Homo sapiens: one gene and its partner. The protein of the gene in region 1 purifies or fractionates together with the protein of each later gene. This does not show direct contact. Each region holds a gene or a part of one and is shown on either strand. Other genes may lie near its edges.

The links.
Region 2: the proteins of ANKRD9 (region 1) and AMBRA1 purify together in Homo sapiens (affinity purification with mass spectrometry; 2 studies listed by BioGRID and IntAct, with this or other methods). This does not show direct contact.

The regions. Positions count from the first base shown.
Region 1 is NC_000014.9:102,500,990-102,504,952, forward strand, and holds the end of ANKRD9 (ankyrin repeat domain-containing protein 9), read right to left. Parts: 3' UTR 778-3,963; downstream 1-777.
Region 2 is NC_000011.10:46,429,759-46,437,052, reverse strand, and holds part of AMBRA1 (activating molecule in BECN1-regulated autophagy protein 1), read left to right. Parts: intron 1-2,015; coding exon 2,016-2,204; intron 2,205-3,424; coding exon 3,425-3,579; intron 3,580-5,965; exon of another isoform or gene 5,966-6,162; intron 6,163-7,294. UniProt on the Homo sapiens protein: Substrate-recognition component of a DCX (DDB1-CUL4-X-box) E3 ubiquitin-protein ligase complex involved in cell cycle control and autophagy.

The DNA of each region.
Region 1 (3,963 bases):
TGCCTCCTCACTGTCCCGTCACTCCTGGGAAGAAGAAACGGGTGAGAACTGCTAAGTGATGACAGGTGGAGCCCCAGCAGGGGCCACTCTATTGAATGGCATGGCCCAGACCCTCGGAGGGCCAGGCAACAGGCTAGCAAGGCCCACAGGGAGGGAGCAGAATGGAGAGGGCATCTCAGATGCGCTTAAGGAGCGGCGGGGGCGGGGCATGGGGGGTGTCACAACTAATGTGGCCACTGCTTCATTCTCTGGGCAAAATAATATTAAATGGATTAAAGAATCTAAAACCAGTGGGAAAACTGTCTGATTTCTGGATGGCAAAGGCTTTCTAAACTCAAAAGTGATAGGACAAGCTACAGAGGAAAATAAGTACATAGATTTGATTTCTCCAAAATACAGAAATGCTGCTGGGCACAGTGATGTGCAGTTATAGTCCCAGCTACTTGGGAGGCCAAGGCAGGAGGATTACTTGAGCCCAGGAGTTTGAGGCTGCAATGAACTATGATCACACCACTGCACTCCAGCCTCGGCGACAGAGCAAGACCTTGTTTCTCAAAAATAAATAAATAGAAGGAAATAAATGTAAAAATGCTGCAAATTAAAAACCTCAAAGAAGGGAAATAATTGCAACAAATGGGAATTGATGTTGAATATTTACCTTAAAAACCTATACAACAATAAGAGGAGTGCGCCCTTCAGCAGCATGTATACAAAAATTGCAACGATACAGAGATTAGCATGGCCCCTGCACAAGGATGACTCGCAAATTCATAAAGCTTTCCATAAATATATTTATTAAAAACCAATAGGAGGAGCACTTCGAGTCGAGTGTAAGGGCCCTTCACAAAAGCAGAAGGAACACTGGCCCAAACCCCCAGCACCCCGGAAGCAGAGGTGAGATGGGAGCAGCTTGGGAGCCCCCCATTGGCGCCGCCCTACTGGGGAAGCCGGTCCGTACGTAGGCCTTGCATCTCGCCACCTCCACTTCTGTCCTCAAGAACAAGTCCTAGGTCAAGGGAAACAGCACAGCCTGTTTATAATTAGGAAACACTTAAAACAGCCTGGCATTTGGGAACAGCCATGTTAACGTGAGCAAATTCCTCTCATGAAATAGCCTGCAGCTATTAAGAAGCACGTGTGTGCAGGAAGCGGAGGCGCAGGACCTCACCGCGCCAGCGTGAAGTTCCCGGGCATGGTCATGAAAGCGTGGTTCTGTAAGAAATCAGAGGGAGAAAGGGAGAGAAGGGGGAGGGAGACAACCCAAACGTTGGAGGGTATTTGTTGTAAACTTCAAACTTTTGGCAGGTTTGAAATTTTTCATAACTCCGGGGAGGAGCAAGAGGGGTGAAAAGAAACAAGTTCTCTACTTGTGATCAGCAGCTGGTCATAGTGGTTGCCTGGAGTATATGCCTTTTTGTATCCTTTGAATTTCCAGCCATGTAAATGTATTATTTATTCCAAAAATAAAGCAGATTTACATTTTAAAAATTCAGTTGTCTCTAACTACTCTTTGTTATCAAGGCTGGTTGAGTCAAATATCACAAAGTAGACACCAATGACTTCTTAAAAATCATATTTACAAAGTACAATGGGGGAAATGCTTATACTACATTAAGGTTAAAAAAATACTAAATTGTGTAACTGATCTGGTTTCATATATATATAAATATACACAGAAAAAAATGTAATATATATCTGCACAGAAAAAAGCTGAAAGAAACATATGCCAGAATGCTAGCAGTGCTTGTATGCGTGCAGATGACGCACTCAGTCAGCGCCTTTACTTGTACGTGAGCGCTTAGGGGCCCTGTCTCTGGGGACCATGTGGGGCGGTGGGGCGCTTGAGACAGTGTTTCCCTGCATCGTGGCCGGACCTCTCTACTCAATCCCCAGTGTTCTACAGTGAACATGAATTTTATAAGCAGAAAGAAATTACTTTTAAGAGCCAGGCGCAGTGGCTCACACTTGTAACCCCAGCACTTTGGGAGGCTGAGGCGGGCGGATCACAAGGTCAGGAGTTCGAGACCTGCCTGGCCAACATGCTGAAACCCAGTCTCTACTACAAATACAAAAATTAGCCGGGCGTGGTGGCCAGCGCCTGTAATCCCAGCTACTCCAGAGGCTGAGGCAGGAGAATCGCTTGAACCCAGGAGGCGGAAGTTACAGTGAGCTGAGACCACACCATTGCACTCCAGTCTGGATGACAGAGCAAGACTACATCTCAAATAAATAAATAAATACATAAATAAATAAATTACTTTTAAGAATCACCAATAGAAATCTGTCTTTCCATCTTTTTTTTTTTTTTTTTTGAGATGGAGTCTTGCTCTGTCGCCCAGGCTGGAGTGCAATGGCGCAATCTTGGCTCACTGCAACCTCCGCCTCCTGGGTTCAAGCAATTCTCCTGCCTCAGCCTCCTGAGTAGCTGGGAGTACAGGTGCCTGCCACCACGCCTGGCTAATTTTTTTATTTTTAGTAGAGACGGGGTTTCATCATGTTGGTCAGGCTGGTCTCGAACTCCTGACCTCATGATCCACCCACCTTGGCCTCCCAAAGTGCTGGGATTACAGGTGTGAGCCACCGCGCCCAGCCTTTCCTTCCATCTTGATTGCAGTGGTGATTACACACATGTAGACATTCATCAGAACTCATCAAAGTATACACTTAAGTCTGTGCATTTTATTACATGTAAGTAACACCTCAATCTGAAAAGTATCAGGGCAACACCACACACTGCAGAGGGGCAGGGCTCCTCCGGCAGTTACTCACTTCCCTTGAAACAGAAGCTCAAACATGGAGTAGTCTTCTGTGACTAAACTTGTTTTCCGCCCTCCCAACTTCCAGGAAGAACCTTCTTCTGAATAGGATTTGAGGTAACTTAGGAAACTGCTCTCAATACGGAATTTTAAAGTTGGTGAGGAAGTCGACAGAAGGGGAAGTCACAGTAGGAAAATCAAGGTACTATCAGGATGAAGTCAGCACGCAGAGCAAGGCCAGCGAGGCCCAGGCGCCAGGCCTTGGTCCCTGCCCACCTCACCCAGGCCAGCCAGACAGCACGGACTGCCCTACAAGGTCACCTCAGAGAGATGGGGGTGTTCTCTCACTGCTGGCTTTTGATGAGCCCAGGAGGGCTCAGCCTTCACTATCCTCCCTAACAGGCATTTGGGGTGCAGAGATGCTGACGCCTGAATAAGGTTGGGATTCGGGGCCCTTGGGAACACTGGGCACCTGGTGGGTGGGTGGAGGGGCAGGACCGGCTGCAGCCATGTTTCCCTTAGAAACAGACTGCTGGAATTAACGAACTAAACAAATGAACCAAGGTGCTTCACCCCCCAAAAAAGTGAGTTTTGTTCTGCGTGGAGCGATTGCCTTTGGGAAGCCACCAAGGCCACCTGCCAACAGGCAAATGCTGTGCTGCCGTCTGCCTGGCTGACTCCGGCCCTCCCAGTCCTGCAAGCTCATGGCCAGGACGATAACGATGACAGGGGCAACACCATGGTCCTCGCTGCCCTTCCTGGGGCAGGAGGGCCCAGAAGACTGATAAGCTAAACCCAGGGCCTCCCTCGGCTGCTTATCTGCCCAGCACCTTTCCTCTAGGTCCTCTCCTCCCACCAGTACAGGGGTCTGGGAGGGGGTTGCAGGGGGTCCTGAACCACAGATCCCTGGAGACTCAGTGGGAGCAGCTGTACTAGGAATCAGGCACCACTCCGCTGCTGTAAGTCTTCGTGAGAGCCACTGGCCAGCTTCCTCTGACTTCCCTGTCCCCTCACCCAAATCGATGACATCAGGAGCTAATGGCCCAGGCTGCCCTCCTGCTGCAGTGCCCATAATTCTTCCGGCAGGCCCCGCCCTGCACTCCACGACCAGCCTGGGTTCTTCATCCTGGTAACCTGACAATGGATTTCGTGGGGCCCACTCTCAGTGCCCGCCAGCCTGTGTCCTGCCTGGCCAGGCAATGAGTAC
Region 2 (7,294 bases), on another chromosome or scaffold:
TAACACACACGAGCTGGATCTATGTAACAGCAAGATAGGAAAGTCTACTTTAATAACATACCCAACAGACATTTTCGAGACATTAAATGTAGATAAAATGGTAACTGTTCAAAGCTGTCTTAAAGCCCATAGAGTCTCATCTCCTTTCCTATTTAGGTTCATGTACTACTTAACATTTATGATTTCTTTATTTTCTTTCTCTCCCTGCTTTTGGTGGTTAGAGTGTAAATTGTTAGTTTCTGTTTATTTTTCTGAGCATTGTCAGCCTCAGAGTTAGAAAACCAAGATGGTCTCACTTCTGAAACTTCTCCCAGTTCCTTTGGTTCTATATCCCCAGCTGGATTCATGTGTTGATCCAGAAAAGGAGAGGGATATTGCCGTGTTTTGTTTTTGTTTTTGTTTTTGTTTTTGTTTTGGCAAAGGGCTTGGGACCCTGAGTAGTAAGTAGCAGACGGTCCCAGTGCTAATTAGATAAATCTAGCCTTACAGGCTAGACCAGATGGTGGGTTGGGAGTTGAGCAGTAGAAAGGCCTAATGGTGATAGCAGTGAGTATTTGGATATCATTATTTTATTAGTTAGCAAACAGAACCATCCTTGTGGTCCCTCTTCGGTTTTATGTGTAATGGTGCTGTAGGTGTCAGCCCCCGAGTTGGCACAATAGCCTAATCAATGTATTCTAATGCCTTTTTTGATATACACTGTCATCTCATTAGCAACACACAGGGAAAGGAGAACAAATAGAGTTTTACAAATCACTCTTAAGTATCAGATCACATAAGCCTGGGGGCCTCTGAAAGAGCAATTCCTTGTTTTGTTTTCCTTGAGGTAATTTCCTAGGGAAACTTGCCCTTGACTTTTTTTGGATTACTGCAGTAGATCACCTGGACTCTGGCGAGGGCAGCTGAGCTTGGCTTTTAAAAAATTACCACAATGCCTCTGACAGTGGACATCTCCTTCAAATAAGAGAAACAGTGAAAAGTTTTTTTGCTTGAGGTATATCTACATGAGACAAAGCCCTGATGAGCTTGGTCTGTTTGAATGTGTTGTGCTGTTCTGCCCGGGCCCATGATGTGGGCACTCTTGTTCTATGCTCACATCAAGGGTAAGCCACTTCTTCCTGGCAGGGAATCACACGGTGGGACTCAGAGGGATTCAAATGAAAACCGAAACAAGGCCTATAGGCACAGTGCCAGTTAACATCTCATTGGTGCTGTTGTGTGGAGTGGATGCTCCTCACCAACAGACATTCCTCCACCCTCAGATCTTGCCACCTTACCAGGCTGAGCCTGCTGCCTGCCTGACCCTGCAGTTTGTTCTCAGGAGCTGCAAAGTGCAGACTAGGGCTGTCATGGACATTGGCATAGAGCATAGTGGGAAATGAAAAGAGCCCTGGCCATCCAGCCGCAGCTGGGCTTTGTTCTGTTTCCTCTCTTGGTAGAGTTAGAGATTAGTATTAGCAAGGAGCTGTTCCAGAAAACTGGTCTCTAGATGTTCCAGTTCTCTTTCTCTTAAATGAGAAAGTAAGATACAAATTTATGAAATGACTTTCTTCTCCAAGGTCACATAACAGGTGTTGAATAGGATTCCTGCCCCAAGAAAGCTCTACCTGTATCATCTTTTTCTTGGAACCAGTGGGTTTGCATTTTCATTTATCTTGGTTTTGATCTCTGGGACAATAACAGCTGTTAAATGGCTCTCTAGGAATAATTTTTAATAACTTTTTCCTTATCTAATCTCTCAAGCGGTATTTCCTAAATGTGAACTAAGACTCAGCAGGTGGTTGTGGTGGTGTTGACTATCCTATAGTTTCCTGCTAAGGTGGGAGAAGAGACATACTTTTCTTGCCTCCTGTGTTTTGTTCATTTGACATTTTAGTTTGAATGAGAAGGTATTCTTTAGCATTTCTAGACAAGGTTCAGGCCCTTAGGAAGTCCCTAAAGTTTCTTGGCCCCAGAATTTTTACAGTATCAACTCCAAAGTTTCTTATCCTCTTTTCTTTCTTTGTCTGATGCAGCTTCCGTGAATGTGCTGGTGCAGAACTGCAAGATCTACAATGATGCCAGCTGTGACATTTCTGCAGATGGCCAGCTCCTGGCAGCTTTCATCCCCAGCAGCCAGAGGGGCTTTCCTGATGAAGGCATCCTGGCAGTGTACTCCCTGGCCCCCCATAACCTGGGCGAAATGCTCTACACCAAGCGATTTGGTAAGGGATAGGAAGCCCAACCTAATGACAGAGGGACGCTGGTGCCTTGGCATGGTCATTGCTAGGTGAGGCACAGCTTGGGTGGGAGTAATGGTCACATACTGCCCCTACCTTCACTGGGGCACAGGCCAGAGAAAGATTGCTTTGCAGGAGTGCTGGCTAGTAACATTGCAGAAGCATCTGAGCATTAGAGTCCTACCGCATGCCCCTGTTACGACGGTCAGGAATAAGGGAGGAGGTGGTTGTAGCACACACATGCACTGCAAGACAGTTTGGCATTGTGTATTTAAAACCTCCCAAAATGTGTCAGCTCTTTGGCAATCCAGCTTTTAAGGAAATAATCAGAAAACTATACAAAGATTTACATACAAGGGTGTTCACAGCAGTGTTACCATACAGAAAAATGCCAAATTGTTGCCTTGAGACTTTTTTGTTTGTTTGTTTGTTTGTTTTGCGGGAGGGTGGGGTGGGTGTTTTGTTGGTGTCACCTTGAGTTGAATTTAAGTGTTTTTTGTTTTTTTTTTAAGAGTTGACTAAACAAATGATGGTGCAGTGATAGAACTGCTCCATTGGCCCTTAAAATGCTCTTACAGAACAGTGTTCATAATGTATTAAATGAAAAAGGTGGGTTTCAAAATAGTAATTACAGGATGTTAACAATTTTTTAAAATGTTGATAACAACGGTTAGCATTTATTAAGTACTTTCTTTCTTTTTTTTTTTTTTTTTTTTTTGAGACGGAGTTTCACTCTTGTTGGCCAGGCTGGAATGTAATGGCGTGATCTCAGCTTACCGCAACCTCTACCTCCCGGGTTCAAGCGATTCTCCTGCCTCAGCCTCCCGAGTAGCTAGTATTACAGGCATGCGCAACCACGCCTGACTAACTTTGTATTTTTAGTAGAGATGGGGTTTCTCCATGTTGGTCAGGCTGGTCTCAAACTCCCTACCTCAGGTGATCCCCCGACCTCGGCCTCCCAAAGTGCTGGGATTACAGGCATGAGCCACCGCGTTCAGCCTTATTATGTGCTTTCTATATGTCAAACACTACACTCAGTATGTATATGCCTTCTCATCATACTCCTCACTACAGTCCTATGAGATAACACCAGGATGAGCAAGTGAATATGAAGATTAGAGAAAAAGACAAGAGTAAGAGTGAAAGTTGTTTCCTTGGAATGGCCAGAAGCCTAGGAAATATTTCTCTGTTTTGTTGGCCCTCAGGTCCCAATGCCATTTCGGTGAGCCTGTCCCCAATGGGCAGATATGTAATGGTGGGCTTGGCCTCACGAAGGATCCTGCTGCACCCCTCCACAGAGCACATGGTGGCCCAGGTCTTCAGGCTGCAACAGGCCCATGGTGGAGAGACCTCCATGAGGGTGAGTGCCATTGCTTGTGCCTTCACTGTATGGCAGCTCCCCTAGGCTTGGAAGGGTAATGAGGGGACAGTGGTGTGACCTCCCAGCCAGGACCAGAGCTATCACACAGTCATAAGGAGTAAGGAAGGGCTGTAGTCAAGCCCATCCATGACCAGCAGGCTTCATTTGTGGAAGCTCTGGACTATCAAAGGCCTTTCCTCACACCCTAGAATATGTGCTGCATTCCCCAGAGGCCTGCAAGTATCTTCAGATAAACTGAATACTTCCTTACTTCTACGTGAAACTTTTAATCTGGAGATGCATAAAGGACCCAATGAAATGCTTATTTTTAAAGCTTTTTGTGTGTGTGTGTGAGGGAACAAGCTGTAAAAAGTAATAGTATGCCATGAAATGTTTTTTTTCTGTGGGTTATAATTATGATGGAAGATGAAGACTTTAGGCAGTTGCTGTATTCTTAATCATCCCATTCATTTCACCAGTGGAGAAAAGGTCCTGTCTAGGACCCTGTCTTGTCTAAGGCACGTCTCTCTTATATTGCCATAAAAGCCTTCTGGGCATCCTGTGGTTCGTGGCCTTTTGGCCTCAGCCAGACTAACGTGCCTGAGTGAACGTCCCACGTCCCATAGGTGCTCATTTAGCCAGGGTTTTGTCAAGGGGATTCAAGCATTTGAACAGTTCTCTAATTAGATAGTATTCAAGCTTTGTCAGAATCCAAGAACCTGTGAATTTCCTTAGTACTTTGTGCAATCTGTACCATTTATAGTTGGATGTACTTGTTGGTCCATTTTTTGTCTTCTTTAGCTGTGTAGCGTATGTGTTTAATCCACCCAATTCGGTTCAGTGTAAGCTCCTTAGAGGGATATCCCTCAGGTCCCTCATTTAGTGCTGTGCATGTAGATGGCTGTTGAATATCTGGAATGGGAAGCATTTGTTTTAAATAAAAAAACTAGAGATAGCACCCATTATATACAAAGTGATAGAAAGTGGGTGGCCTGGTGTGGTCCTTTCCTCTCCAGCCTCTTCTCCCTCCTGTCTCCTACAGATATCCTCTGTCCAACTACACTGAGCCACTTTTCAAGCTTCTTGAATTTGTCAAAGTGCCTTCTTGCCAGGGTACCTTTACTTGGAATGCCCTCCTGTCCCCTATCTCCAGCTACCTGCAAGCTTTTTACTTTCTGTGGCATCCATCTTAATAGAATTGATCACTCGTTCCTTGTGCTATCATTGTACCTCTTACACATTCTCATGTCAGTACTTGTCACACCAAACTGCAGTTATTTGTTTCCATGTCACTCTCTTCTCCTGGGCTGTGAGCTCCTTGAGAATAGAGACTGTGTCTGTTTTATCTTTATGAAGTCCAAGAACTTCATGCGGAACCTGACACTTAGTAGAAAGTGAATGAATGAATGAAAGAGAATCTCAAAAAAAAATAAATAAATAAAAATAAAGCATCCTCTTTATCATTTCTAGGTGGTAACTAGCAGAACCAATGATGGGTAACATAACATCATGTCCCACCAAGCTTCTGAAAGGAAAACAAGTCATTCTGTCCTCTTGATATCACAATGACAAGAAAGTTCTGATCTTGAATTCCATATGGCTGGAAATATTTGACATTGGGTGAATAGGAGATGTCATTGTGGGATGTTCATCAAGTCTATTTTCTTATCTAGATATTTGAGGATGGAAGTTGAGTTTTCATTTAAATATTCTTCTTTTGCTTCTCTTAAGCAGAAGCTGGTCTCTGCTTTTCACCACCTGGAATCCCAGTCCCAACAGCTGCTCTTCTAACCCTTCCGGCCTAATTGTGGAATAATCGTTTAAATCATTAAGAGACAGAATCTGATGTTGGTAGCTCTGACAGACCTCTCTAGCTTCTTTCATAAGCCAGGGCTCTTGCCCAGCTCCTGCACACAGCCTGCCAGTTCTCCATCTTAGCACAGTTCCACTTTTCCATAGTAGCCAGAAACATCTGGCTGAAGACAAACAGTTACAAAGCAGAAGCCAAGGTGATGGGATCTGTTGTCACATATGGGGCTGGCAGCTCAAGGAATGTGGTTCTCTGCTGAGGAGATGTGGTAATCCAGTCAGCCCCTGGCTGTCCTGCCAAGGGTCTCAAGGCAGCTAGCCAGCAGCTGCATGCTTGGTGACTGGAGCTACTACTACTGCCAGGCTGCCTGGTGAACCTTTTTTGATTCTCAGTAGGTACCATCTGCCACCAAGCACTAAGAAAGGGAGCTGAAGTACCTAGAAAGTTCCCATTTGGGAAGTGTTCCTGTCACCCAAGAGACAGGATCAAGGCATCTCAACAAGGTTTAGGTCAACCAAGTGTCCACCCAGTCTGACTTTAAACCCCCATGCTACAGAAAGGTTTCTGGTTTTCCAGGTCTTGGTTGCCCCTTACGTCCAAAGGCACCAGATCACTCAGCAAATGTCCCTGAATTCAGTGATTGGTGGAAGGGAAGACACCAGCTTTTTTGGATAGCTGTGCTGTATCACCGTTTAAGGCAAGAAGTGAATTTTTGTCTGAGAACAGGGAGCAAGGGTTTAATGGGACAGTACAGCATCTCCCTCTTTGCACAGGTAAGTATAGGTGGGTGTCTCCATCTCTAATGTCAAGCTCTGACCATAAAGGAATGCTTTAGTGGGTAATGGGCCTGTCCTAGAGCTTTGCTACCCAGAATTCCCCTTCTGTCTGGTGTTACCTCTTGGAATTCACTGTGGTAATGTTCAGAGAGGCAAATGTGTTGGGCCAACAGACATTCCCAGGAGAACATCCTCCAGAGCATTGATTTATTTTAAGATGGCACTAAGTGACATCTCTCCCCAAGAGATGATCTCTGACACAATCCCATATGAAAACTCTTCTGAAAATGAATTGCTAATTGCTATTAGCCTTGATGCACTTACTCTAAGCAGTTCTTCAGACTTCTGGATCAGTGCTTCTCAAACTGTGGTTCTTGGACAACTTACAGTAGAACTACATGGGTCCTTATTAAAATACAGATCCATTTCAGACCTAAAATCAGAATAAGAATGGGAGTCAGAGGGACCCAGGATTAGTATTTTTAAAACAAGATTTCTTCATTTTAGGTGTCTGCCCTCAGCCTCCTCAGCAAGGCAGAGTCAGTCTCAGGTCTACTTGCCATTGTGGTTTTGTGCATGGTGCTTTGATTCTTTGCTAATTATGTTGCAGGCACAGTGGTGTTTGTCTTCTGTTTCCTACCAAACTCAGCTTTTTTGGCTGTCTGCGCCTCACCTCCCATCTTTTCTAGGCTGTTGCTGCTTTCCAGGTTTCTCCCTTGAATAGCTGTATGTGCTGGAGTCTTTTCTTTATGTTGAATCATTTTAATTTTTGTCCTTATTTCTAGGATCTAGGGTCCTTTTGATCTTTCCCTTCTCTGTTTATCGTGCTAGTCCTCCCAGTTTTAATGATGGGTAAGTCAGGAAAGTAAGACTGGGCACATATTTTCTCTCTCCCTTCCCACTGTCCATTTGCGATTCCTCCAGACTGGATATGCTACTCTCTATGACTCAGAATCTTATTTTCTGTCTGATTCCCTTCTGCTTGAGCCAGAGAGGGCTTTTTGTTAATTTTTGTTTTGTTTTTAGGTTAAGCTTTTAGAGACTGCTGAGCTGAAGTTTTGCTGAATTCTCAAAACACTAAACTGCCTGTGTTCCCTCTCGGCTTTCATTTTCTAATTGGAACCAGGCA